Linked DNA regions of Homo sapiens. The main gene of each other region encodes a partner of the protein of the gene in region 4 in a complex. Each region holds a gene or a part of one and is shown on either strand. Other genes may lie near its edges.

Region 1 (7,023 bases), on a different chromosome or scaffold from region 4:
CTTGGGCTCATATGATTGTCTGCCTCGATTTCCCAAAGTGCTGGGATTACACGCTTGAGCCACCGTGCCTGGCCTACGCTCTTAAAAATTACTGATGACCTCAAAAAGCTTTTGTTGATGTGGATTATATATATTGATATTTACCATATTATAAATTAAAACTCAGACATTTAAAAAGTATTTATTCATTCAAAAAAAAATAAACTAATTATGTTAACATAATTACTGTATATTTAAATGAAAAATAATTACATTTTCCAAGTGAAAAAACAGAAGGATGGCATTGATTTACATTTTTGCAAATCTCATTAATGTCTGACTTAATAATAGGTAACTTGACTCTGTATTTGTCTGTTGTGATTTGTTCAGTTGAAGTATAGAAAGAAAATTTAGCCTCACACATAGGTAGTTAGAAAGAGAAGGCATATTATATTTCTTAATGTTACACAAAAACTCAACAAGTGCTGGTTTCTTAAAGGTGAGCTATGTGGAACCTGAAACCAGATCAAAGAACTTTCCTTACTGTTATATTAATTTTTTTAATACTTTGAGTGGATCTTTTACCCATGCATGATTTTATAACATCATGCATTGGTCATTTGTAAAATATTGGTTTGCTGAGTTGTTCAGACCTTCCAAATGTTGACATATTTCCACTATACAATATCAGAAAATCACTTTTGTTAACATCACTTCCGGTCTTATCACAAAACTCTTTAAATAATGGGAAGTTAAAGAGTTCACAGTTTTTCAGAATTCTAATTTACACTTGAAAGTTTAAATGTTATCACTGGCATTTCCATTGCTTGAGCTATTTCCATTTAATAGCTTAATTTCTCTGCTGAGATTTCCCATCTGTTCATTATGAGATATTTTCCTCTTCTTGAAAATATTTGTGATATGTAATTGGTGCTTTGAAGTCCTTCCTGTCTGTTAATTGCAACATTGGATTCACCACAGGATTGGTTTCTATATTGGCAGCTTTTTCTTCAGTGTGTATTACATTTTCCTGTTTATTTACCTGTCTGGTCACTTTTTTAAATTGTTACTGGACATCATGAATGATATACTGTAGAGACTTTGAGTTCTGTTACACTGTATTGTCAGTTGTTTTCCTTCAGGTAAAGCTCACTTTGTACAATAGCTTTTTATAGATTCCATCAGATTTTGTACCTAGAGGGTCTTCCATCTTTGCATACAGTTTAATTTCTTACTTTACAATCTAGATGCTTTTTGTTTCTTTTCCTTGCCCTGTTGCATTAGCTAGCACTTCAGTGCAGATGTTGAATAGAAGTAGTGAGAGCAGACATCTTTGCTTTGTTCCTAATCTCAGGAAGAAAACATTTAGTTTTTACAACACATTTATTAAATGTGTTGTAGCTGTATAGGTTTTTTGTAGATATCCTTTATGGAGTTAAAGTTCCCTTCTATTCCTGTTTTGCTGAGAGTTTTGTTTTCAGGAATGTATGTTGGATTTTGTTCAAAATATTTTCTAATTATCCTTTTGGTTTATTCTTTGCTCCATGGGTTATTTAGGAGTGCATTAATTCCAAATATTTGGACTTTTCTAGATATCTTACTGCTATTTACTTATAATTTAATTCCATTTTGGTCAGATAATATACTGTAATATTTTGATCTTTTGAAATTTGTTGGCCAGGCACAGTGGCTCATGCCTGTAATCCCAACATTTTGGGAGCCCAAGGCAGACGGATTGCTTGAGCCTAGGAGTTTGAGACCAGCCTGGGCAACATGGCAAAACCCTGTCTCTACAAAAAAATACAAAAATTAGTCGGGCATGGTGGCACACGCCTATAGTCCCAGCTACTGTGGAGGCTGAGGTGGGAGGATCACTGAGCCCAGGGAGGTCGAGGCTGCAATGTGCTGTGATTGCACCACTGCACTCCAGCCTGGATGACAGAGTGAGACCATGTATCAAAAAACAATAATAAAAATGAAATTTGTTAAGGTGTGTTTTATGGCCCAGTGGATAGTCTATCTTCTGAATGTTTCCTTTGCACTTGAAGAGAACGTATATTCTGTAGCTATATAAGGTAGTGTTTTATAAAAGTCAGTGAGGTCAAGGTGTTTAGATCTTAGATCGCCTGTATTCTGGGTTTTTTGTGTTTGTATTTTTCTATCAGTTACTATCAATTGTGGATTTTTTGTTTTAGCTGGTTTATTTTGTTTTTCAACTCTAAAATTTCCATTTAATAGCTTACATTTCTCTGCTGAGATTTCCCATCTGTTCATTATGAGACATTTTCCTCTTCTTGAAAATATTTATGATATGTAATTAGTGCTTTGAAGTCCTGTCTGCTAATTGCAACATTGGATTCACCACAGGATTGGTTTCTATTGACAGCTTTTTCTTCAGTGTGTATTACATTTTCCTGTTTATTTACCTGTCTGGTCACTTTTTAAAATTGTTACTACGCATCATGAATGATACACTGTAGAGACTTTGAGTTCTGTTACACTGTATTCCTCTTAAGTGTGTTAGTTTTTATTCTAGCAGGTAGTTAACATAGCTGAACTCCAAACTGTCTCCTTTGCAGTGGACGGCAGCTACAATCTTTGCTCAGTTCTTTTAGTTTCTAGCTGCCATTTTTTTAATTGGCCTGATGGTATTTTCTCTGCACATGTGTCATTTAACAGTTAGCCAAGGATTTGACTAGGGTTTGTATGTAGATTTTGAGGTTCATCTCTTTTGTAGTTCCTTCTCTTCCAAGATTTCCCCCCTAATTTCCTAGCTGTTCTGCCCACTTTGCACTAATTCCTCAAGCCAGTAAGCCTGTGGCTTTCTGCCTTCATGAGCCATGCTGTTTGGGAAGTTGCCCTCCAGCAAATCTCTTTTCACATATAGACTTCATCCAGTTCATACTTACTTTTGGTCACTCTTCCACACCTTCAAATACCTATTTTTTTTGTTTTGTCTAGGTTTTATAGTTGCTAACTGAGGATAGGTTAGTCTGTTCGGGTTACTCTGCAATGTCTAGAATCTGTCTCCCCACCTTATATGGGCCTAAGGCGTTGTCTTCTGTCCCTCGGGGTGCCGTCAAAATCCAACAGCCAGGTGTGGTGGCGTGTGTCTGTAGTACCAGCTATTTGGGAGGCTGAGGCAGGAAGATCGCTTGAACCCAGGAGTTTAAGTCCAGGCTAGGCAACATAGTGAGACCCCAACTCCAGAATAAAAAAATTTAAGGCTCTTCTTTCTGATATTGGCAGATATCTATAAGTTGACTGTAGTTCCTCATCTTGGCAGATATCTTTAGGGTAGCTGTGGTTACAGGCTAGCTTACTAGTTCCGTTTGCAGTTCACTGTATGTAGGCTTTTTGGTAGAAGGAGGATTTTTCAGAACACTCATTTGCCATACATACAGCCAGAAGTAGATCTTTTTATAGCACAACCCTACAGATGTTCCCTGCTACCGAGTTTTTGTTTTTTGTTTTTTAATTTTTGGACCCAAAACTTAGAATTCTCCCTGACCTAGTTTTTTTTTACTAGTATTTAATTTGTCTTCATTTTTCTCAGTTGCTTTTTTCCACTTCTTGTTCTGATTTTATCCTAGATTTCTTCTCTTATTTCCCTTTGTCACCCTTGCTTTCTTTTTGTTATTCATCTTTCATCATCTTTTCTAGTTTTGTCTCTTTTCGGCCTGCTGCAAGGGAATATTTCCGGAACAGATATATAGTATCTGTTGGAAAAACCCATAAGATAATTACCCAGCCTCTCTTAATTGAAAGAGAAACGGGGCCGGGTGCGGTGGCTCATGCCTATAATCTCAGCACTTTGGGAGGCCGAGGCGGGCAGATCACGAGGTCAGGAGATTGAGACCATCCTGGCTAACATGGTGAAACCTCGTCTCTACTAAAAAAAATACAAAAAATTAGCTGGGCGTGGTGGCGGGCGCCTGTAGTCCCAGCTGCTCGGAAGGCTGAGGCAGGAGAATGGCGTGAACCCGGGAAGCGGAGCTTGCAGTGAGCCGAGATCGTGCCACTGCACTCCAGCCTGGGCAACAGAGCAAGACTCCGTCTCAAAAAAAAGAGAAACTGAGGCCCAATAAATAAGCAGTTTGCCTAGAGTCATGCAATTTCCCTGAGAAAGCTGGAATTAGAACTCTGCGTTCCTGATTCTCTGGTCCAAAGCTCTTTCCACTGTGAGTTCTCCTGCAATTTGTTTTCTGATTCTGCTTAGGATTTGGTGTTTGTTATTCATATGTCCTTTGTATTATCATATTAGTGTAACTCTCTTAAGACCTTATTTCCAAGGTAAAAAACAGTGGTTTCCTTGGTGCTTTGGAATACCATCCATGCTTCTAAGGTTGGAGAGGATGCCATTTATAATAAGCTTCCCTTCTTTTTTTTTTGAGACGGAATTTCGCTCTTGTTGCTCAGGCTGGAGTGCAAAATGGCACGATCTTGGCTCACTGGAACCTCCGCCTCCTAGGTTCAAGCAATTCTCTTGCCTCAGCCTCCCGAGTAGCTGGGATTACAGGCGTGAGCACCACGCCCAGCTAATTTTTGTATTTTTAGTAGAGACAGGGTTTCACCATGTTGGCCAGGCTGGTCTCGAACTTCTCATCTCAGGTGATTCACCTGCCTCGGCCTCCCAAAGTGCTGGGATTACAGGCGTGAGCCACCATGTCCGGCCAAGCTTCCCTTCTTAAAGCCCTCTGTTACTCACTCCACTCATCCCTTAAGGGAAAGTCTTAGCATACATGTTATAAGTGTAAGCAGCTAGGTAGTAGGTACTAGGGATTCCATGATTAAAGAGAGATAGCCCCTGAGCCCAGGAGCTCACTTTCAATCTAGAATAGAAGACAGACAGTTTCAACGCTGTTTGGTTAGTGTTACTATAGAAGATTTTCAAGATGTTTTGGGAGCACAAAGGAAGAGTAAGTTGAGCCTTAGGAGGATGTGAGTGATCAGGAAGTGCTTCCTAACGGATGAAATGTGGGAGCTGAGTTTTAAGGGATGTTGGTAACCAGCCAAGATAAGAAGGAAAGGAAGGATATTAAAGGAAGAGGGTCCTATATGTGCAGAGTCATAAGGCTATGAGACACCATGGTGTTACCAGGTGGTGGGGGTCCCTAAGTAATTTGCTGTTGTTGGATAGCATAAAGCGTGAGATGGATGAGAGAGGTTGGCAGACCGTGATCACAGAAGGCCCTGGAAGCCTATCTGAGGAGCTTGGTCTTCACCCTAGAGGTAAAGGGGAGACACGGAAGGATTAAAAACAGCTCTGCATTTTAGATAGACAAATCCATTATAGCAGTAATATGAAGGATTTGAAAGGTACAAGATTGGAAGTAGAACAGATACAAGGCTTTTGCAGTAGCTCAGGCTGAAAGTAATGAGTGTCTGAACTACGACTTGCAGGCAGTGGTAGTAAGGATGGTTAGTAAGAGAATAGGAAGTGGGGATGTGGTCAGGGGTGAGCTGGTGGGACCTGTTTGCTGATTTGGGGAAGAGGAAGGAGGAGTCATTGGATTTGGCAACAAGGAATGTCAGTGATGACCTGAAAGGGCTAGTTCCGTTGTGTAGTGAAACAATGGCCAGGTTCTAATGTATTAAGGAGTGAATGAAAAGTGAGGAAACAAATAGTGAATACAGGCTTTTTAAGAAGTTTAGATAAGAAGACCAAGAGAATGCATGGTAATTAAAGGGATTTGAGGTCCACTCACTACCTCCTTGAAATTCACCCCTGTATTGTTTTCCATGACACCCTACTCCTGGTTCTTTTCTCTGATCATTCTTGGCCACCTTTGCAAACTCCTCTTCCTCTGTGCACCTCTTAAGTCTTTCCCAGGGCTCCATCCATAATTTTTAGCTGTTCTCACTCTATGTGCTCCCTCTGGCTGATTCTTACCTAGTCATGTTTTCAACTATGACCTATATGTACATGATTTCCAAATCAGTATTTGCATCTTGGTCTGGTGTATTTAGCTGTTTGTTGGATTTCTCTATTGATTTAGACTTGAGAGATTTCAAATGCATTGTATTCAAAGCTGAACTCATCAGCTTCTACTGTAAGCCTGCTCCTACTCTTGTGCTCTCTAACTTGCCTCCTCCTTCTTTGTCCTTGTGTACCTAATCAATTAGTGCTGCTAATTAGTCTTACTAATTTTGCCTCCTGTGTCTTCTCTCTTCCGTCCCTCTTTATCATTGCCTTCATCATCTGTTGCCTGGACCATTGCAGTGATTTTCCTGCCCCAGATCCCCTCCAGAGTGATCTCTTTGAAATGCAGTTTAAGTTCTTGCTTTAAACCCATCGTTTCTGGATGAAATCTAAGCTTTTTACCATGGCCTACGCAGCTCATTATGCATTGGCCTCTGCGCCTTTCCAACTTTGACTCATGGCTGTTCCCTTTGTCATACTTCAGGTTCCAGCCATACCAGTTTGCCTTTGGTTTGCTGCACATACCAGGCCACTTCTTATTTCCGTGCCTTTGTTCTTGTTGCTCATTCTGTTCTGAAATGACCTCCAGACCCTTTCTGGCCCTTCCATCCCCAGTGCTGTAGTTAACACAGAGCCTTTACTGATCATTCTTGCCCAACCCTCATGTCACCTTTTTATCATACCTCCCCCAAGCTGATTAAGATACCCATTCTGTTTCCATGACACCCCATGCGTATTTCTACCAGAGTTTATGCTGTTCTTTTAATTTATTTGTTTAAATGTCTCTCTCTTCCACTAGTCTGGGAGTTCATCAGGACAGGTGCTGTGTCATACTCATTTTCATGTAGTGTCTACCATGGTACCTAGTATATAATGAAAATTCAATAAATGTTTGTGTAATGAATGGATAAAATATAAGATGTGGACATCAGCTGAGAGAGAACCAGGCTTTTAGAGTGGCAAACGTTTGAAATAGCTGTCAGAGTGGGGGAAGGGTGTGAACAAGGACTAAGAAAAGGATGAATGATATATTTTGTCCCTTTGATTCTATTGCATATGCCTTAAATATTTTCTTTTCTTTTTTGTTTCTTTCTTTCTTTTTTTTTTTTTTTTTTTTTGAG
Region 2 (7,141 bases), about 130 Mb from region 4:
TGGCCAACATAGTGAAACCCCGTCTCTACTAAAAATACAAAAATTAGCCGGGCGTGGGGGTGCGCGCCTGTAATCCCAGCTACTTGGGAGGCTGAGGCAGGAGAATCACTTGAACCCAGGAGGCAGAGGTTGCAGTGAGCCGAGATCATGCCACTGCACTCCAGCCTGGGCGACAGTGTGAGACTCGATCTCATAAATAAATAAATAAATACCCCAAACAAAAAAAGAGTAAAAGCTGTGAACTATCTCCAGCTATGTCAGGCTGACTTACTTGACTGCTTTAAATCACACTAAACTTACTCTTTCTGAACTGATATGAGAGTATTGATCTTAACCATGGTAAAACCTCACCTAAAACAAACATCGGACTGTTCCATCCTGAATACTTTTCCAAATAACTGAAGTTTATCCAATTAAGTGCAAAATATCTTCATTTTGCTTCAAAGTAGAAATTGCTCAAAAAAGTACTATTCACTTCCTGTAGATTATACAGTGGAAAGAGCACCATTGAAAGTCATTGAGACTTAGCTAGATTCATCTCTGGAGTATGGCTTTGGATAAACTACTTATCTCTAAGTCTGATTCTGTCTTCTGTAAGTGGACATACTACCTTCCTGCCTACTTCTTAGGATCAAATAAGATCCTGTAGGTGAAACATTTTGCAAATTCAAAAGTGTTTTGCACATTTAAGATACCGTCATTTGGCCAGGGTACACAGTGACTCACTCCTGTAATCTCAGCACTTTGGGAGATTGAGGCAGGAGGTCTGTTTGAGTCCAGGAGTCCAAGGCTGCAGTGAGCAGTGTGAGCCACTGTACTCCAGCCTGGGCAAGATAGCAAGACCCTATCTCTAAAAAAAATTTGTGGCCAGGCGCAGTGGCTCACGCCTGTAATCCCAGCACTTTGGGAGGTCGAGGTGGGTGGATCACAAGGTCAGGAGTTCGAGACCAGCCTGGCCAATATGGTGAAACCCCATCTCTACTTAAAATACAAAAAAATTAGCTGGGCATGGTGGCACATGCCTGTAATCCCAGCTACTCGGGAGGCTAAGGCAGGAGAATTGCTTGAATCCGGGAGGTGGAGGTTGCAGTGAGCCGAGATCACGCCGCTGCACTCCAGCCTGGGTGACAGAGCGAGACTCCATCTCGAAAAAAAAATTGTTCTTGGCCAGGTGTGGTGGCTCATGCCTGTAATCCCAGCACTTTGGGAGGCTGAGGTGGGTGGATCACGATGTCAGGAGTTCAAGACCAGCCTGGCCAAGATGGTAGAAACCCCGTCTCTACTAAAAATACAAAAATTAGCCAGGCATGGCAGTGGGTGCTTGAAATCCCAGCTACTCAGGAGGCTGAGGCAGAGAATCAGTTGAACCCGGGAGGCAGAGGTTGCAGTGAGCCGAGATTGCACCACTGCACTCCACCCTGGGCGACAGAGTGAGACTCTGTCTCAATTGAAGAAAAAAAAAAAAATGAGAGAGAAAATAAAAGACTTCCCCATGAATGAAGTAAATGAACATTATAACATGTGACTCCTATGTTACTACCATTTTCCCCTCATATCCTGGTTCTTGGATATGTTTTGACTTTATTCTTTCAGCACATATTTATTGACCACAGTATGTGCCAAGCACTGTGTAGACACTAAAAGATAATCTGAGCTTAGTGGGTAGACAGTTAATAAAATCACAAATTACAGACGGGCGCTATGGCTCATGCCTGTAATCCCAGCACTTTGGGAGGCCAAGATGGGCAGATAGCCTGAGGCCAGGAGTTCGAGACCAGCCTGGCCAACATGGCGAAACCCTGTCTCTACTAAAAATTCAAAAATTAGTCAGGTGTGGTGGCAGTGTAATCCCAGCTGCTCAGGAGGCTGAGGCAGGAGAATCACTTGAACCTGGGAGGCAGAGGTTGCAGTGAGCTGAAATCGCATCACTGCACTCCAGCCTGGGTGACAGGGACAGAGCAAGACTCTGTCAAAAAAAAAAAGAAAGAAAGAGAGAGAGAGAGGAAGGAAGGGAGGGAGGGAGGGGAGTCTGAAGCTGGAGAGGAAAACAGGTAAAGACTAGGTAGCAGAATTCTGAATCCAGAAGTTATTATTGTATTTGCATCTTCTTATATTTTTATTCCCTTTATTCTTTTTCTTTTTTCTTTTCTTTTTTTGGAGACCGAGTCTCACTCTATCACCAGGCTGGAGGGCAGAGGCGCGATCTCGGCTCACTACAACCTCTGCCTCCCTGGTTCAAGCGAATCTCCTGCCTCAGCTTCCCGAGTAGCTGGGACTACAGGCATGTGCCATCATGCCCAGCTAATTTTTGTATTTTTAGTAGAGATGGGGTTTCACCATGTTAGCCAGGATGGTCTTGATCTCCTAACCTCGTGATCCGCCCACCTCGGTGTCCCAAAGTGCTGGGATTACAGGTGTGAGCCACCATGCCCAGCCGAGACAGGGTTTCACCACGTTGGCCAGGCTGGTCTCAAACTTCTGACCTCAGGTGATCCACCCACCTTGGCTTCCCAAAGTGCTGGGATTACAGTCATGAGCCACCGCGCCCGGCCTGGGGCAACTTTTTTAAAGTTTGCCATGATCTGATCTTTTTCCTTCTTCACTTATCTCTCAAACAACTTACATTCCAGACATAAATCACCACTTCCTGAGAACGTCCTGTATTTTGTTTTTTTCCTGCATGTGCTTATGCCGTCCCCATCATCTGGGACTTCTTCCCCATCTCTGGCTATTAAGTAGTTGAATCTATCTTTCCAAGTCTACCTCTTCAGCCCTATCATAATTAAGCTTCTTTACTCTCAAAATTATTTAAATCTCCATTAAAGTTAATGGCATTGTTTGACTAGTATTACTGTTCTTTATGTTTAAGCTTATTTCCCTCGCCAGATTCCCCATAAGATTCTTGATAGCAAGTGTTTTTGTCTCATTCAACAACTGTGACTTCCAGGATGGGTGCAGTGGCTCACGCCTGTAATCCCAACACTTTGGGAGACTAAGGTAGGAGGATTGCTTGAGCTTAGAAGTTCAGCCTGGGCAACATAGTTAGACCCTCCTCTCTACAAAAAAAAGGAAGGCTTGTGAGCCTCTGGTCCCAGCTACTTGGGAGGCTGAAGTAGGAAGAGCTCTTGAGCCCAGGAGGTCAAGGCTGCAGTCAGCTGTGATGATGCCACTGCACTGTGGCCTGGGCGACAGAGTGAGACCCTATCTCAAAAACAAAACAACAAACAAACAAACAAAACCCAATTGTGGCTTCCCCTCATTTTGTATCCCTTTAGCAGCTACAAAGTAGCTACTACAGTAGCCTACTCAGTAGGCCCTGCGGGGTGCGTTGGCTCACACCTGTAATCCCAGCACTCTGGAAGGCCAAGGTGGATCACCTGAGGTCAGGAGTTCAAGACGATCCTGGCCAACATGGTGAAACCGTCTCTACTAAAAATACAAAATAAGCCAGGCATGGTGGCACAGGCCTGTAATTTCAGCTACTTGGGAGGTTGAGGCAGGAGAATCACTTGAACCCGGGAGGCAGAGGTTGCAGTGAGCCGAGATCACCCCATTGCACTCCAGCCTGGGCAACAAGAGCAAAACTCTGTCTCAAAAAAAAAAAAAAAAAAAAAAAAAAAGGCAACTCAGTAGGCTTGTTCCTCTACGCTAGTGATTCAGTGCTGTGCTGGCACCTGCTGGTCACCTGTGGTGCAGCAGCCCTGGTCCCAGCACCTTCCTCCCTTCAGTATTAAGGGTTGTGACAGTCTGTGCTCTTACCTGGCAATCACTGGAATAATATATTAAATACTTGCCCCACAGCACCACCTTTCAATCTTCAGAACTTTTCCCACTGACCTCCTACCCCAGAAATTTGGGCTTTACATCCTTCCCAGTACTGTAGAAATGTAAGGACAGGATCTTCAGGAACTGGGCAGCAAGAAAAGAAAGAAGCAATTTGAGAGTGGAGGATGCAAATCCCTTTCCCCCCTTCAAAGAATTGAGACTATTTCCAACAGAATTCCACTCTTTTTGACCTTTGTCTTATTTCTAGGTTGCTCTTGGGCCATAGGCCTTCTTGGTGACAGAAGTGATGAACCGGAGGTTAAGCAGAGAGTAGGTAGGCGGGGCTCAAGGGGTGGGGCCAAGCCAAAGGGCTCTCACACTAAGTGAAGCTTCTCCATTCTGTAAGCTTTCCGGGAACATCCAAGGCAAGACTGGCACCCAGCACAGCAGGTGAGGGACCGGCAGTGACAGAATGGTAGACTTTAGGGGTAATGGTGGCAGAGGAATCTCTAGCTCTTTCAGTCTTAGCTTTTCATATTGTGAAACTCTCGCTTGTACAATTCTTGGGTCCTTTGTAGAGCTTAGCTTAGTTTTTCTGGTGGCAAGGCAGCCTCTGAAAGACCTGGTTTTGGATGCGGTGGGGGCAGGGCTGAGGGATGCAGGTGGATCCACATCCATATGGATGTGTGCGAAATGCAAGGAAATCTTAGGAAACAAGGAGATAGATGGGTAAGGGCCAGAGGGAGAGTATGGCCAGGCCAGAGGATCATAGGGAGGACCCAGACAAGAGAAAAAGGGAGACTGAAACAGGGAGAGAGGGAGAAGACAGCGGAATAAATGTGAGACGGCAATGGGGGCAATGGAGAGCTGGGTAACAGGAAGGCCAAGGAGGAAGGAAGGCTCACATGGAGCAATCTCCTCTTCCGGCTGGGGAGCATGGTCCAGAAAGCCCCAAGGCAAGCTGGGAGCAAAGCAAGGTTCAGGTTTCCACTGGAAGGATTCAGCTGGGGAAAAAAACCCCCACAGTCTCCACCTCCTCTGCCTCTTCAGACTCCCATTTTGGTTTGGGGGAGAGGGCGAGGCTGCTCCTCACTGCGGTCACAGCCACATCCTGCAGAGCAGAGGAGGGGGAAGTAAGAAGCAAAACAACCAGAAGAACCACAGGCGAAGACCATGGGGAGAGAACCCTGGACACATGGAGCTGATATGCCACCAAGAGGGTCCTGAGTTCAGTGTAGCAGAAGGCTCAGACCTTCAGGACTGCCTGCCCTTCTTGAGGTGTTGGCTTCTCGTGCTTCCTCAGTGTGCTTTAACCACACTGGGAGCATTCCGGGGAAGGAGGTTTCTCTGGATTATTTGGTTTGAAGCCCATCTTTATAATTTACTAGTGACTTTGGCCAAATTGCTATATTTCTCTTCGCTTCAGTTTTCTCATTGCAAAATGGGGATACCTACCCTAACCTTACACAGGATTGGGAAGGCTAAGATGACTGACGTAAAGCACTTGCATATAGTAGGTTCTCAGTAAATGTTAGTTATTACTCCTATTAGGATTCCTGGGATGCTTATGCTTCTTACTTTAAAGGAAGTATAGTGCACTAGCTGCCACTGGCTTTGGGGGCCAAAAAATGAGTTGCGTTTGATCTTGGGTAAATTACTTAATGTAAGTATCATTTGCTTAGCTGTAAAACAAGGATGGTAATATCTATGCCACACAGACATATGGCACAGAGTCAGTGTCCAAAAATGGTAGCTGTAAGAATTCTGTCAGGCTGGGCGTGGTGGCTCACGCCTGTATTCCCGGCACTTTGGGAGGCCGAGGTGGGCAGATCATGAGGTCAGGAGTTCGAGACCAGTCTGGCCAACATGGTGAAACGCTGTCTCTACTAAAAATACAAAAATTAGCCGGGCGTGGTGGTGGGTGCCTGTAATCCCAACTACTTGGGAAGCTGAGGCAGGAGAATAGCTTGAACCCGGGAGGTGGAGGTTGCAGTGAACAGAGATCACACCACTGCACTCCAGCCTGGGTGACAAAGCAAGACTCCGTCTCAAAAAAAAAAAAAAAAAGAATTATCTGTCAGGTAAGCCCTGTCTTCACTGCAGCAGCAACAGCCTACTTCCCCTTGAGATGTAACTTGTGCTAGGCTAGCCTCCCGTGTGCCCACATTCCTCCAGCCGGGGCTATCGCCACTCCCGTGGGCTGTTTTGGAGTCAAGATTTGCTACAGCACTAAGGGGAAAAAGCAGGCAGGAGCAAGGCATAGAGGACTGAGGGGCCCCAGGGGGCGGAGAGGATGACAAACAAAGATGATGATGACATGGAAACTAAAGAAGCAACAGAAAAGGGAAAAGCCATTTCTCTCTTTCTAAGGAAGCCTGTGGCCTTTCTTCTAGTGACTGACCACATACCCCACTCTCCAGGACCCATGGAGTCCTTCAGCTCAAAGAGCCTGGCACTGCAAGCAGAGAAGAAGCTACTGAGTAAGATGGCGGGTCGCTCTGTGGCTCATCTCTTCATAGATGAGACAAGCAGTGAGGTGCTAGATGAGCTCTACCGTGTGTCCAAGGAGTACACGCACAGCCGGCCCCAGGCCCAGCGCGTGATCAAGGACCTGATCAAAGTGGCCATCAAGGTGGCTGTGCTGCACCGCAATGGCTCCTTTGGCCCCAGTGAGCTGGCCCTGGCTACCCGCTTTCGCCAGAAGCTGCGGCAGGGTGCCATGACGGCACTTAGCTTTGGTGAGGTAGACTTCACCTTCGAGGCTGCTGTTCTGGCTGGCCTGCTGACCGAGTGCCGGGATGTGCTGCTAGAGTTGGTGGAACACCACCTCACGCCCAAGTCACATGGCCGCATCCGCCACGTGTTTGATCACTTCTCTGACCCAGGTCTGCTCACGGCCCTCTATGGGCCTGACTTCACTCAGCACCTTGGCAAGATCTGTGACGGACTCAGGAAGCTGCTAGACGAAGGGAAGCTCTGAGAGCCCTGAGCCTAGCACATTCCACCTTGACAAAATGGTTGACTGAGAAAACACAGATAATGGGCTTCCTAACCCTGCTCACCTGGCACTAACACTTTTCAATCTTCAGGCTTCATTCCTTCCCAAGAGTGCTTTTGACTCTGAGACCAGCCCACCCCCAAACAGCTAGTGGAGAAGGAGCAATGCTGAGGGGTGAGGCCTCTCTCCCACTCCAGCCCCAGGACAGGAAACAGAACTGCCTGAAAAAGGTGAAGTGAAACTTGGATCTCTATTTCTCCCATAAGGGACTTCTGAAACAGGGAAGCCCCCTCCCATGTGAACCAAGGAAAGGAGGCACAGCCCAGAGAACCCCTTTGGGGATACTAAAGACAGAAGAGGGGAAGGTGGCCCTTAGAG
Region 3 (7,697 bases), about 180 Mb from region 4:
CTTATCTGAGATCTGGCCCTGCTGGCTCCACTGAGTTATTTTGAAGTAAATCTCAAGCATAGTATACCTTGCTTTTTTTTTCATCATGTATATTGGATATCGTTTCATATCGGGACACAAAGACCTTTAATCTTAGTAACAGTTGCATAGAATTGCACCCTATGAAGATGCAGTAATTTATAATAGTCCCTATTGATAGACATTTAGGTTGCTTCCCATCTTGGTATTTTAAACAATGTTGTGATGATTACATTATACCACACATGTAAGTTTGTATGGAGGATAAGTACCTAGAAATAGAGCTTAATAATTTACAGTACCACTATTTTTTCATTTCCAATCTAATAAGAGAAATAGTACTTCAGTGTAGTTTGGTGTGCCTTTCTTTTTTTTCTTTTGTGACAGACATTCTGAATGTAGCCTTTCTGTTATGAGTGAAGCTGGGCATCTTTTCATGTTTAAAGACCACTCCTATATCCTTTGCTACAAACTGATGCTCACATCCATTGCCAATTTTAATTTTGAGTCTTTTTTTGTTTTGAGACGGAGTCTTGCTCTGTCACCCAGGCTGGAGCGCAATGGCGTGATCTCCACTCACTGCAACCTCCGCCTCCTGGGTTCAAGCAATTCTGCCTCAGCCTCCCGAGTAGCTGGGATCACAGGCGCCCGCCACCACACCCAGTTAATTTTTGTATTTTTAGTAGAGATGGGGTTTCGCCATGTTGGCCAGGCTGGTCTTGAACTCCTGACCTCAGGTAATCCGCTGGCCTCAGCCTCCCAAAGTGCTGGGATTACAAGAGTGAGCCACCGTGCCCGGCCCAGGCTTGGCTTTTAAAAGTGCTGGTAGAGCAGCTGGGCGCAGTGGTTCACACCTGTAATCCCAGCACTTTGGGAGGCCAAGGCAGGTGGATCAAGAGGTCAGGAGATCAAGACCATCCTGGCCAACATGGTGAAACCCTGTCTCTACTAAAAATACAAAAATTAGCCGGGCGTGGTGGCACATGCCTGTAATCCCTGCTACTCGGGAGCCTGAGGCAGGAGAATCGCTTGAAGCCAGGAATCGGAGGTTGCAGTGAGCCAAGATTGTGCCACTGCACTCCAGCCTGGTGACAGAATGAGACTCCGTCTCAAAAAAAAAAAAAAAAAAAAAAGTGCTGGTAGCTTCAACCTTGGTTTCCTAGACCCCTAATCCCCCATATAAGAAAGCATACCACCCTTCTAGAGAAACCGTGTGGTGAGGGCTGAGACTACATAGAGATAGGGACCCAGCTGAGGCCAGTCTTCCAAAGATACACACCAAAGCCGTAGATATGTCTTGTGGAGCAGAAGAATCACTCAGCTGAGAACCTGCCCAAATTCCTGACCCATGAAGTCATGAATTATAACAAAATGGTTGTTGTTTTAAGCTACTAAGTTTTGGAATATTTCTTACACATCAGTAAAGACCAGAATAGCATTCTTTTTCAGGAACTCTACATATTAGTAAAATTAATCATTTTTCAGATGTAATGCAAACATATTTTTCCTAGATGTTTTGACTTTGTTTATTGTTTCCCTTTTTAGTCATGCATAATTTTATTTTTATGTAGTTGCATTTATCATTCTTTTTTTCCCCTAAAAACCAGCTAGAGCATACAATTGAGGAAAAGATAGAATTTTTAAGAAGAAGAGAGATGAAATAGCTAAGGTTGAACTTAAGAAATCACAAGGTCTATATGAAGACAACCAAAAACTTTTGAAAGATTCAAAGGAAAGTTTGAACAAATAAAAAGACATCATGTACTTGGATTTAAAAAAGTAATCCTGGCCAGGTTCAGCTAACACGTGTAATCCTAGCACTTTGGGAGGCCAAGGCAGGAGAATCACTTGAGGCCGGGAGTTCAAGACCAGCCTGGTCAATATAGCAAAACCCCGTCTCTACTAAAAATACAAAAAGTTAGCCAGGTGTGGTGGTGCACACCTGTGGTCCTAGCTATTCCAGAGGCTGAGGTGGGAGGATCGCATGAGCCCTGGTGGGGAGGTTGTAGTGAGCCGAGATTGTACCACTGCATGTCAGCCTGTGCCATATCAGGAGATCCTGTCTAAAAAGAAGGTGGGGGAGGGCGGTGGGGAAAAATAAATAAACACGCTGTCTTAAAGTCAGACAACATGACACTCTGTTGGGTTTGGGTGGGGGAATGATTTTTTTAAAGACTGGGTCTCACTATGTTGCCCAGGCTGGAGTGTAGTGGCTATTTATAGGTGCCATTACAGCTCACTGCACTCTTGAACTAGGCTCAAGCAGTCCTACTACGTCAGCCTCCCCTAGTTCTTGGGAATACAGGCCATGCCACAAAACCCAGCTAGGGAATCTTTTTTTTTTTTTTTTTTTTTTGACAGGGCCTGGCTCTGTTGCTCAGGCTGGAGTGCAGTGGCATGATCTCTGCTCACTGCAACCTCTGCCTCCCGGGTTCAAGAGATTCTCCTGCTTCAGCTTCCAGAGTAGCTGGGACTACAGGCAGGCACCATCAGGCTCGGCTAATTTTTAAATTTTTTGGTAGAGCCAAGGTCTCATTATGTTGCTCAGGCTGGTCTTGAACTCCTGGGTTCGAGCAAGCCTCCTGCTTCTGCTTCTCAAAATGCTGGGATTACAGGCATGAGCTCGCGCACCTGGCTGAAATTTTTTTTTTTTTTTCTTTGAGACAGAGTCTTGCTCTGTCACCCAGGCTGGAGTGCAGTGGCGCGATCTCGGCTCACTGCAACCTCTGCCTCCCAGATTCAAGCAATTCTCCTGCCTCAGCCTCCTGAGTAGATGGGACTACAGGCGCCTACCACTACGCCCAGCTAATTTTTGTATTTTTAATAGAGACGGGGTTTCACCATATTGGCCAGGCTGGTCTCAAACTCCTGACCTTGTGATCTGCCTGCCTCAGCCTCCCAAAGTGCTGGGATTTACAGGCATGAGCCACTGTGCCCAGCCCTGGCTGAAATTTTTTAAAGGAAATAGTTATCCCATGCATTTGCCAGCTTTGTGTAGTTTATTTATTTATTTATTCTTATTTATTTTTTTGAGACGGAGTCTCGCTCCGTCACCAAGGCTGGAGTGCAGTGGCATGATCTCGGCTCACTGCAACCTCTGCCTCCTGGGTTCAAGTGATTCTCCTGTCTCAGTCTCCCAAGTAGCTGGGATTACAGGCATGTGCTACCATGCATGGCTAATTTTTGTATTTTTAGTAGAGACAAGGTTTCACCATGTTGCCCAGGCTGGTCTCGAACTCCTGACCTCAGTTGATCCACCTGCCTCGGCCTCCCAAAATGCTGGGATTACAGGCGTGAGCCTGGCCGCTTTGTGTAGTTTAAAAATCACTTTCAACTCAACCCCTTTCTGAAGTCGTTATTACTATTATCCCCATTAAACAGAAGCCCTCAGAAAAGCTAATTTTGATTCTGCCATTTGCCCTAATCCGTGTTCCCTTAGGCAAGTCCTTTCAAAAGTCTAAACTTCAGTTTCCTCCTCTATAACATGTGTATGCCAATTAAGTGAAATCTCTGCCAGGCCACAAGCCATGACACAATGGAAAGGTAGGTGGACTTTGGGGTCAGGCACACCTACAAATTCCAGCTGCTCCACTTAGTAGCTGTGTTATCCAGGGAAGGACATGTTCTGACACTGGCTGACGCCTAACTGTGTGCACACATAGACAATTATTTCATTGAATCTTTAAGCCCCTGAGTAAAGTTAATCTTTACTATAATCTCCGTTTTGGAAACTAAGCCAAGACATGGCGAGGCTGAGTAATTTATCCTTGGTCACCAACTCTAAAAGAGCTGGATTTGCGCCCAGCATGTGGATTTCAGCGTCTTCCTGGTAAATCGCCACCCTCAGTTGCCACCTGAACAGTAACTCTCCACGAAATGGATGAGAATTGAATCCGTAACTGGAGGGAACCAGGCGTCTGGCTTTGGAATGCAGACCGCCTCTGGCCGACTGCCAGAGGTGGGAGGCCTGAAGTTTGGGCTCCTTGCCGCCCTACCCTTTCCACCACAACGCTGCTATCAAGCCTAAACTCCAGCAAAATAGGCTTTAGGAAAGGCACGAAATTAACTCATTTTACACATAGAGATACACACTGGGACGATTTTGGCTTTTCAAGCTAACTCAGAAAATGGAGATACAGGCCGGGCGCGGTGGCTTACGCCTGTAATCCCAGCACTTTGGGAGGCCGAGGCGGGCGGATCATGAGGTCAGGAGATCGAGACCATCCTGGCCAACATGGTGAAACCCCGTCTCTACTAAAAACACAAAAAATTAGTCGGACGTGGTGGCAGGCGCCTGTAGTCCCAGCTACTCGGGAGGCTGAGGCAGGAGAATCGCTTGAACCCTGGAGGCTGAGGTTGCAGTGAGCTGAAATCGCGCCACTGCACTCCAGCCTGGGCGACAGAGCGAGACTTCGCCTCAAAAAAAAAAAAAGAAAAGAAATTGGAGACAGGACGGCACTCCTCCTACCACGGCCACTATACAACCGAAGGCACCTCCTCCCGCCTCCCTCCAGGTGGCGCTGTAGGACCGGCCCACCTTCCACAGCGCAGACGCCTCAGTTTGGCCTCCCTCGGAGGCCATGCAGCGAAGAAACGTGACTTCATGGCTAGAGGGGCATTTCCCAGGAGCCGCCCATGCCGCCGCGTGACCTTCACACTTCCGCTTCCGGTTCTTTATTCCGGAAGTTGCTCTCAGAGGCAGCGTGCGGGTGTGCTCTTTGTGAAATTCCACCATGGCGTACCGTGGCCAGGGTCAGAAAGTGCAGAAGGTTATGGTGCAGCCCATCGTATCCTACGCAGGATGTCAGGACTAGGAGGTTCGGGTCAGAATACGGGGTGCGAAGGCGCAGGCTGAGGGCAGGCCTGGGATAGTGGAGTACGGATCCACATCCCATGAGCCCCCGGGGCTACCAAGACTGGAAGAAAGCGCGGGTAGTTGAACCGTGATGGTGGGGAGGTGGTCTTGGGGGGACCCCTGCCGTGGGGAATGCAGGAATGGACGCGGCAAAAGGAGGGAAGAGAACTTCAGGTGCGGAGTGAAAACGGGAGTTAACGGTTTTGGGAAACTCCAGGGGGATGAAAGTGGAATGGATGTTCTTTAGTCTTTAGAAGACCCGTAACGAATGCCCAGCTGGGCACTTGTTGTTTGCGTAAGCACCAGACCTCGCGTTTAGTAAACAAAGGTGAGACGGGAATAGCGTCGTCCGGTTGTTTCAGGAAGCAGAGTCTATGCTGCTTTTGTATTTTTTCCTTAGCCACTGTGGTGCAGAACCTCATCTTCAGATACTTACAAAATGTACGTAAGTTGCTTGTTTCGTAACTACTTTTTAAATAAGAGGTGAACTGATTTAGTTTTTTGTGTTAACCTGAGCGATCGCTGTGTTCTAGAATTTAAAAATAGATGTAACTGGAGATTGGAGGGTAATTGAGGGGAAGGAGTACTTAGAAAGCACTAATGTGATGAAGTGGTGTGTATCCATGCCACTTCCCAACATGCAAAGAATTGTATCCATTACTTTGCAAGATCAAAAATACTTTTTAATTCCAAAAAGTATTATTAGCAGACTTGACCATGGTATTTGGGCATCAGTAGTTTTGTTAGTAGTGATTATGGCTAGAACATTGGAACCTCTCCCCTTTAGGATGAAACATTGGAAGAAAAACCCAGCCAACTTAAACCATGTCAAGAGGTGGTGTGTTTAATACCTGTGGGAAAACTTAAAGACGAAAAAAGGAAGAGAGAAGGGGTAGCTTCAGAGGAGTTTAGTGGCAGCTGCTTTCCTTTGAGGGAAATTTTAGCAACTTAAATTTTATAGTGTGATAACACAACTGAAAAACATTAATTTCAGGTGATAATAATTCTTAACCACCTGAATTGAGGGCTCCTGTCCTAGTTGTTAGGTGTGTGACATGAGAAGGCTTTGTTTTGGAACTGGATTTTGCTGCAGGAGATAAGCCCTTGGTCATTAGAAATTACTGCTTTGTGCTATGCTGTCAAAAACTTTCACTCTTAATAGATTGAGACCAGAAGCAGTAAGAAATATTGAGTCCCAAAATCACAGGAAAATTATTAGCTTATACAGTTCCAATATAGAACTTATTAAATGAAAATTCTTTTTGAGGTTATTATTATTGGTGAATAATTCTTAGATATGGGCTAATTAGTTAAAACTTTTGACTTACATTCATTACAATTTTTTTAGGAGCCATATTTCTCTTGTCGTTTGACCAAAATGGTTAGGTTTTGTATACTTCAATTTTTTGGGGGGCGGGGGGCGGGGAGATCTTGCTTAATGTTGCGCAGGCTTATATTGAACACCTGGCCACAAAGCGAATTATTCCGCTTTGGCATCCCAAAGTATGGGAACGGTGTGAATCGAGGCACCTGGCCTGTTTTTCTTTTCTTTTTTTTGAGACGGAGTCTCACTGTGCCCAGGCTGGAGTGCAGTGGCGCGATCTCAGCTCACTGCAACCTCTGCCTCCCGGGTTCAAGCGATTCTCCTGCTTCAGCGTCCCGAGTAGCTGGGACTACAGGCGTGCGCCACCACGCCCAGCTAATTTTTTTTGTATTTTTAGTAGAGATGGGGTTTCACCATGTTAACGAGGATGGTCTCTATCTCTTGACCTTGTGATCCACCTCCCTCGGCCTCCGAAAGTGCTGGGATTACAGGCGTGAGCCACCGCGCCCGGCCCTATTTTTCTTTTTTTAACGTTTCCACTTTTATGATTATTTCAGAGATCGCGGATTCAGGTGTGGCTCTATGAGCAAGTGAATATGCGGATAGAAGGCTGTATCATTGTGAGTATCCAGGCGATTTCATCTCATAGCAGTTCGGTCGTAGAAAAAGACTTAACAGAAAGTGTCTAGCCAGAACAGTGTATAAAAAGTCAAAGATCCAACCTAAGGAAAGTTTTTCAGGTGCTGCTGTTTAGCCTTTTTTCATTGTTGATAGATAAGGATTGGGTAGTTTTTAATAGGGAAAATAACTTTTAATTCATTTTCTTTCCTCTGTCTATGTTGAGAAGAAAATTTGTATTTGATTTTTGAGAAAGGGCTTTGTTCTGTTGCTTAGGCTGGAGTGCAGTGGCACAATCATGGCTCGTTGCAGCCTCAACCTCCCGGGCTCAAGTAGTCCTCCTGCCTCAGCCTCCCAAGTAGCTAGGATCAGAAGCGTGCACCATCACAGCCTGCTAAATTTTTATTTTTTATAGAGATGAGGTCTCACTGTGTTGCCCAGGCTGGTCTCAAACTCCTAGGCTCAAGTGATTCTCCCACCTCAGCCTCTCAAAGTCTTGGGATTACAGGCATGAGCCACAACGCCTGGCTGAAAATTAACTTTTAAAAATTATTCGAAAAAAAAATATTGAGCGACAATGTTAGTATGGAGAGGGGGGACAAAATAAATGAAATTAGGGAGGGTGGGGTTATTTGTTGTGGGTTAGGTGATACCTGAATAGAGAGCTCAGTGGGGTTAGTTAAATAAGGCTTCTGGGATAGCAGGCTACCCTAAATTTTTTTTTTTAAGTTGGGGTCCGGCTCTGTCACCCAGGTGCTCTCAGCTCACTGCAATCTTGAACTCCTTGGCTCAAGTGATTTTTCCACCTCAGCCTCTAGTAGCTGGGAACTATAGGCATACACCACCAGGTCCAGCTAATTTTTAAATATTTTGCTGGGCAAG
Region 4 (7,023 bases):
CATTTAAGGTCCATTTAAAGTATACAATTAAATGATTTTAGTATATTCATATAGTTCTGCAGCTATTACCATCCCCATGTCCACCCCACCCTAATCTGTTTTCTATCTCTATAGATTTGTGTATTCTAGACTTTTCATATAGATGGAATCATACGTGTTCTTTTATGACTGGCTGAACAATGCTAGTCTGCTTACTCTAATAAGATATAATCATCAGAAAGATTCAGAGATCCTTTTGTAGTTCATAAGCATGATGATTGGGTTTTCACATGCACACATGAGCTGTGCCTCTCTCCAACCTTGTTAGGAAGTGAGCACCATTACTCATCTGATGTTATCAGGGGCGGGGGGAGTTGGGGAGATGCTCCAGTTAGCATATTTGACAAAGTACCTTCGTCGTGGTGGTGGTGTGGGAGTCCTGCGCCGTCGAGGAGGAGGGGCGGGAGAAGGAGACCGTCGCCTTCTGGTGGGTGGTGGGGATGGACTTCTCCTCCGTCTACCACTAAACCAAGAAGAATTATAGTTAATTTTTTTTCTTTTTTTTGTGTGTGTGTGATGGCGTCTCACTCTGTCGCCCAGGCTGGAGTGCAATGGCATGATCTTGGCTCACTGCAACCTCCGCCTCCCAGGTTCAAGCAATTCTCCCCCCTCAGCCTCCTGAGTAGTTGGGATTACAGGCACCCATAATCATGCCTGGCTAATTTTTTAAAATATTTTTGTAGAGACGGAGTTTCACCATGTTGGCCAAGCTGGTCTTGAACTCCTGACCTCAGGTGATCTGCCTGCCTCAGCCTCCCAAAGTGCTGGGATTATAGGTGTGAGTTACCACGCCTGGCCTATATAGTTAACTTTGAGTCAGTGGCATTTATAGTTAAGTGACCCAGAAGACACGGTTTCAATTATCATTAACCCCAAGGGCAGCAATGGTTACTAAGTTTCAGAACAGTGTTTTTCAAACTACAGGTCAAGATCATCAGTCAAGACCCTGGGTGGCAGCATTAAAAAACTTAATAAAACCAGAGTGTTTTACTTGTGACAAGGGTAAGTACCGTTTTGTGAAATTTTTCTTTTACTCTGGATCACAATACCAAACATTCTTGACATGACACAGAGTGAAAAAGTTCGGCAACAGCACATAAGAGCACTGCTTTTTATTGGGGATGCACATTAGAACCACCTAGGAAGCTTATGTGAGATTTATGCCTACCAGGTCTGGGCTAAGGTCCAGCCAGGTGTTTTTGGGAAAGGCTCTCCAGGTGATTCTAATTCCTTATTAGGAATCAACTGCTTTAGAGACTCTAATACAGAAATTCAAAAATGCCAATAGTCACAAGTGGCTTAAGACCCAAGTCTGGACGTCTCTGCTCCAAGCTCTTAATTTTTTTTGCCCAGGACAGGACTCATGCTTCCTGTGAATCTGGAATTATGTTTTGTCTTGGTTCCCGTTAGAAACTAAGAAATCTCTGTTAACTGAACAGACAAAATCCTAAAAGTCACCACTAAATTTTTCAACTTAAATCTGCTTATGCTTTGTGGGGACTAAGACCTCACACTAAATACATATAAAATATTCAAAACCAGGCTCTATCTCCCCTTCTTTTCTTGAGACAGAGTCTCGCTCTGTTGCCCAGGCTGGAGTGCACTGGCACGATCTGGGCTTACTGCAAGCTCTGCCTCCTGGGTTCACACCATTCTCCTGCCTCAGCCTCCCAAGTAGCTGGGACTACAGGTGCCCGCCACCACACCCAGCTAATTTTTTGTATTTTTAGTAGAGACGGGGTTTCACCGTGTTAGCCAGGATGGTCTTTATCTCCTGACCTCGTGAACCACCCGCCTCGGCCTCCCAAAGTGCTGGGATTACAGGCGTGAGCCTCTTTTTTTTTTTTTGAGACGGAGTTTTGCTCTTGTTGCCCAGGCTGGAGTGCAATGGCACGATATCGGCTCACTGCAACCTCCACCTCCCGGATTCAAACGATTCTCCTGCCTGAGCCTCCCGAGTAGCTGGGACTACAGGCATGCGCCACCACGCCCGGCTAACTTTTTTGTATTTTTAGTAGAGATGGGGTTCCGTCGTGTTGGCCAGGCTGGTCTCAAACGTCTGATCTCAGGTGATCCACCCAACTCAGCCTCCCAAAGTGCTGAGATTACAGGCATGAGCCACCGCACCCGGCCTCTATCTCCCCTTCTAAAATACGATACTGAAGCATAATTCCAAATAATCCTTCCTCCATCTCTAAATCCTAGGAACCTGATGGCAATTTCTAATGGCATTAAACTTGAAGCTGCTGGTATATAACTTAAAATACTTTTTAAATGACGAGAAACAAAACAAAAACATCCTGGAGTAGAGCAATAAACATTAGTGTTGATTTTACTGCTGTGAGGAATCTCTTTCCAGAACAGAAAGTAGTGCCATAATTTGGTGGGGGGGTGGGGAGGGAAGGGGAGATGAAAGAGAAGAAATTGCACCACTAATCTAACTCTGTAAAGCAATTGTTTAGTTGCTGTGCTAGCAACTTCACAAAAGCCAGAGATAATTATAGCTGGGAAAGGAATGCTTTAGCAGCCAAACTAATCTTTTTTAGGTTTTTATCTTTTATTATCATGGAGCAGTTTCCTCCACAGTGTAAATACCCCGTGCTTTGCTCCATCACAAACACTGCTCACTGGTTCCTTTCCAAGAAAACACTCTTATTGATGAGATTACCTAAAACAACACAGCTTCAAAAACTGAGCTACAAAAAGGACAGTGGGATAGCTTCAGCAAGGATAAATACTTCAAAATTCAGTGGCAGCTAAGGCCCCAAAAGCAGAAAGCTGGTTAAGACAGACTAGTGTAATGCCAAATGTATAGGTCTAAGATCCAACTTTGTCACTTTGCGGCCCTAAGAAACTACCCCATCAGGGCCGCTATCTTCTCACTTATGAGAGTAAGGCCTGAATTAGGGATTTGGCTCTAAAATTTTACAGTTTTATGGTCACAGTGACACTAATAATCAAAAGTTTCAATAAAGATATGCAGGTCGGGCCCAGTGGCTCATGCCTGTAATCCCAACACTTTGGGAGGCCGAGGCGGGTGGATCACCTGACTTTAGGAGTTTGAGACCATCCTGGCCAACATGGCGAAATCCCTTCTCTACTAAAAATACAAAAATTAGCTGGGCATGGTGGCATGTGCCTGTAGTCCCAGCTACTCAGGAGGCTGAGGCAGGAGAATCGTTTGAACCTACAAAGCAGAAGTTGCAGTGAGCCGAGGTCGCACCAATGCACCCCAGCCTGGGTGATAGAGCCAGACTCCATCTCAACAAAAAAAAAAAAAAAAAAAAAAAGAGAGCTATGCAACCCACCTTTCTAGTACTGGAAAGACTGAACAGGGCCAAAGCCTTCCATTCGCTTTTATTTATTATTATTATTATTATTATTATTATTATTATTATTTTTGAGAGGGAATTTAGCTCTGTTGCCAGGCTGGAGTACAGTGGCGTGATCTCAGCTCATTGCAACCTCCGCCTCCTGGGTTCAAGCGATTCTCCTGCCTCAGCCTTCCGAGTAGCTGGGATTACAGGCACGCGCCAACACTCCCAGCTAATTTTTGTATTTTTAGTAGAAATGGGGTTTCACCATGTTGGCCAGGATGGTCTTGATCTCCTGACCTCGTGATCCTCTCACTTTTAATATTTCTAAAGTTTCTCCCTAGTTTTTCCTTGCCCTCCCTAATGTCACCACAAATACAAAGTCCCTCCCCCCAAATCTAAGGAGCAATAATCCTATCTCTGGAAAAGTATCCAGATACTGTTAAAAATCTGCGTGCTGCTTGATGTAAGTTGATGCAAATTATCACAAAAGAGCACAACCAGATATTAAAAATCTAAGTTCAAATAAGGGTCTAAACCAAATAGCTCATGTATAATTCTCCCTATCATTAATCTAATGTGTTAAAAAAAATACTCAAACCAAAACAACTTAGGATCTGCACATTCACAGCCACAGCCACCATATATTTAAGAATGAGATGAGGTCACCTAAATAGGAAATTAAGTCACTACAATTTTTGACATGTAACCCTAATTTACAAAGTAGTGTCTAACCAACCTTTTAGTCACTGGCGATTGCCATCGCTTTCCCATCTGCATCCTGAGAGCAGTGGAGAAAAACAAATGTCAAGAATTCCATTCACTAAATTATTTACTTGGGTGGATTAAGTACCATTAATGGAGACATTTTTAAATATTCAAAGATGTTCAGGAGTTACTGCTATAATAGTTTGGTTTATTTTTCTAATCATGCACACATATATGACATGGTGGTTTAAAATTTACCAATTCTAAATTAATTATTAATAACCACCAATAAAGCAAAAACAAAACAAAACAGAAACCCTAAAAAGCAAACAAAAATCCAACCACATCCAAATACTTGAAGGAGTTAACCAAATTCTCAAATAATCCCAAGTTATCAAATTTCATCACAATTACAGAACATCAGTGAACATCACTGAAGCAAAGATGTTACCGAGGGGAAGTCTCTTTTTGGCGCTTTCGTGGTGATGGAGAAGCACTCCGGGAAGGGGAATGTCTCCGCCGCCTGCCAACCTCACCATTCTTCACATGGGATCTCTTGGGTCGTTCATCTTCTGAGGAGGAGGAGGAGCCAGAGTCTATAATTACAAAATTAAAAAAATATTACATTAGGTTTGTGCTTGAATCTGTCCAAGTTTTCTGAAATCTAGGTGGATGGAGTGTTCACTAGGGTAAGCAAGCATGTATACAGGCCATCAGTTCTGAACAGAATCATTATCAATATATGATCAATGATTTCAAAGCCAAGCATATTATTTAAATAAGACATAGAAATAATTTCCACAGTGTAATCCAATCAAGATGGCATACTCTAAGAAGTTTGAGCTGGGCACGGTGGCTCACCCCTTTAACCCCAGCATTTGGGAGGCCAAGGCAGAAAGACCGCTTGTGCCTCCTGAGTAGCTGGGATTACAGGTCTGCACCATCATGCCTAACTAATCTTTGTATTTTTAGTTGAGACAAGGTTTTGCCATGTTGGCCAGGCTGGTCTCGAACTCCTGACCTCAAGTGATCCATCTACCTCAGCCTCCCAAAGTGTTGGGGTTACAGGTTAAGCCACCATACCCAGCCTGGTATATTCTTACAATAAAAAATGCAAATAGTAAAATAATAGGGTAGATTATTATTATTTTTTTTGTGGAAACAAAGCCTTGCTCTGTTGCCCAGGCTCCCAGGCTGGAGTGCAGTGGCGCGATCTCAGCTCACTCACTGCAACCTCTGCCTCCTGGGTTCAAGGGATTCTCCTGCCTGGGCCTCCCAAGTAACTGGGATTACAGGTGTGCGCCACTATGCCCGGTTAATTTTTGTATTTTTCGTAGAGATGGGGTTTCGCCCTATTGGCCAGGATGGTCTTGAACTCCTGATCTCGGCCTGCTCACCTCGGCCTCCCAAAGTGCTGGGACTACAGGTGTGAGCCACTGCGCCCAGTCTAGATTTTTAATAGGGAAAGATGTTCTAAATATACTGTTAAGTTAAAAAGTGAGGCAACATATCTACAGTTGAGCTTCTGTGGGGTTTTTTCTTTTCCTTTTTCTATATGCACAGAAAATTTCTGAATAAAAGCTTTAGGAGGTTGGAAAAAGAATGATACGTTTCCAATTTTATACTTCTGTTTTCTGTTTCACTATTGTATCCTAGGGACCTATTACTTTTATAACAATGTAACAGAAAATTAAATTTTGCAAAAGGACTTAAAACCAAAAAAAGAAACAATCCTGCCTCCTCAGACAGATTTCTATGTAGGCAAGTAAGTACTCATGCTGCACACACAGATGTTTATATACCAAGTATTTTTTAATAGGAAATACAGGTAGAAAAAAAACTTTCATCACCATCCATACCAGATGAAGACTGCTGGTTTTGTCGTCTGTATTGGCGTCTCTGCTGCACAGAATCTGCTGCAGCCATTTTGCCACCTTTATCTTCTTCTGAAAGATGGATGCATTTAGAAAGTGTTTCTTTAGTTAAGCATATAGAAAATTTGCAATTTGAATAGGAAAATAGTCTCTCAAACCTTCATTTGGTTGGATCAAAAATACAACTACTATATATTTTTTTTAAAAAGAGTTTAAAATGCCAATTCACAGGCTGATTTAGACTATCTTCACCAAATATAATAAAATTTATTTAGGCATTTACTACAGGTCAGGCTGGTGCCAAGCATTTTACAAGCAGATACAGTTAACTGTCAAAAACCTCTACTGTCCCTATTTCGGAGATGAAAGAAGAAAGGCTCAGATAAGTTAATTAAAACAGAAACAGTTAAATTCTGGAATGGGGGATTCCACCCAAGTCTGTCTGCCTTCAGAGTCTTAGCTCTTACCCTATACTTAATCTTCAAGCAGAAGGGGATGACCAAATGTGCAAAAAATCAAAATCAGCTTTAAGAAAAACAAAAACAAACAAACCAAAATCACAAAAAAAAACAACAAACTTACCCGATTCAGATAACTCTACTTTTCTAGGCTTCGGTGCTGGTGAAGGGGATTCTCTTTTCTCAGTACCTTTATGTTTTGTCACTAAAAAAGAATAAGAGTGGAAAAAAGCTTACGTACAAAAAAAGGTCTATACAAGATGCTTTTCTTTTAATTTTTAAAAATTTATTATTATTTTTAAATAAAGATGGGGTCTCACTATATTAGTCAGGCTAGTCTTGAACTCCTGACCTCAAGCAATCCTCCTGCCTGAGCCTCCCAAAGTGTTGGGATTACAGGCACAAGCCACTGTGCCCAGCCAAGATGCCTTCCTGCTATTACAAAAATGGGTGTGACTACTCTCAAAAAGAATTTATGAAGACTTAAAAAATTCCTGTAAGACCTTGTTGTCATATCTGAACATTATCTGAAGTGAGACAAGAATTTTTAAATGTTTAATGAAAAGCCTCAAAAAGTTCTACAATGATTTTCAAATCTTGAGATTCTCCCAAGAAAACCAACAGTTAAAG

The links.
Region 1: SRRM1 (region 4) and BUD13 share a complex: the UniProt entries of both Homo sapiens proteins name them as parts of the minor spliceosome.
Region 2: SRRM1 (region 4) and TNFAIP8L2-SCNM1 share a complex: the UniProt entries of both Homo sapiens proteins name them as parts of the minor spliceosome.
Region 3: SRRM1 (region 4) and SNRPE share a complex: the UniProt entries of both Homo sapiens proteins name them as parts of the minor spliceosome.

The regions. Positions count from the first base shown.
Region 1 is NC_000011.10:116,748,978-116,756,000, reverse strand, and holds part of BUD13 (BUD13 homolog), read left to right. Parts: intron 1-7,023. UniProt on the Homo sapiens protein: Involved in pre-mRNA splicing as component of the activated spliceosome. As a component of the minor spliceosome, involved in the splicing of U12-type introns in pre-mRNAs.
Region 2 is NC_000001.11:151,152,508-151,159,648, forward strand, and holds the start of TNFAIP8L2-SCNM1 (TNFAIP8L2-SCNM1 protein), read left to right. Parts: upstream 1-4,141; 5' UTR 4,142-4,215; intron 4,216-4,670; exon of another isoform or gene 4,671-4,876; intron 4,877-6,158; exon of another isoform or gene 6,159-6,190; coding exon of another isoform or gene 6,191-6,745; exon of another isoform or gene 6,746-7,141. Other genes in the region: TNFAIP8L2 (tumor necrosis factor alpha-induced protein 8-like protein 2), read left to right, coding at 6,191-6,745. UniProt on the Homo sapiens protein: As a component of the minor spliceosome, involved in the splicing of U12-type introns in pre-mRNAs. Plays a role in the regulation of primary cilia length and Hedgehog signaling.
Region 3 is NC_000001.11:203,856,909-203,864,605, forward strand, and holds the start of SNRPE (small nuclear ribonucleoprotein E), read left to right. Parts: upstream 1-4,690; 5' UTR 4,691-4,751; coding exon 4,752-4,805; exon of another isoform or gene 4,806-4,819; coding exon of another isoform or gene 4,820-4,835; intron 4,836-4,938; exon of another isoform or gene 4,939-5,005; coding exon of another isoform or gene 5,006-5,047; intron 5,048-5,273; coding exon of another isoform or gene 5,274-5,287; coding exon 5,288-5,314; intron 5,315-6,754; coding exon 6,755-6,817; intron 6,818-7,697. UniProt on the Homo sapiens protein: Plays a role in pre-mRNA splicing as a core component of the spliceosomal U1, U2, U4 and U5 small nuclear ribonucleoproteins (snRNPs), the building blocks of the spliceosome.
Region 4 is NC_000001.11:24,660,294-24,667,316, reverse strand, and holds part of SRRM1 (serine/arginine repetitive matrix protein 1), read right to left. Parts: intron 6,599-7,023; coding exon 6,518-6,598; intron 6,008-6,517; coding exon 5,921-6,007; intron 4,658-5,920; coding exon 4,513-4,657; intron 4,135-4,512; coding exon of another isoform or gene 4,093-4,134; intron 503-4,092; coding exon 392-502; intron 335-391; exon of another isoform or gene 230-334; intron 1-229. UniProt on the Homo sapiens protein: Part of pre- and post-splicing multiprotein mRNP complexes. As a component of the minor spliceosome, involved in the splicing of U12-type introns in pre-mRNAs. Involved in numerous pre-mRNA processing events.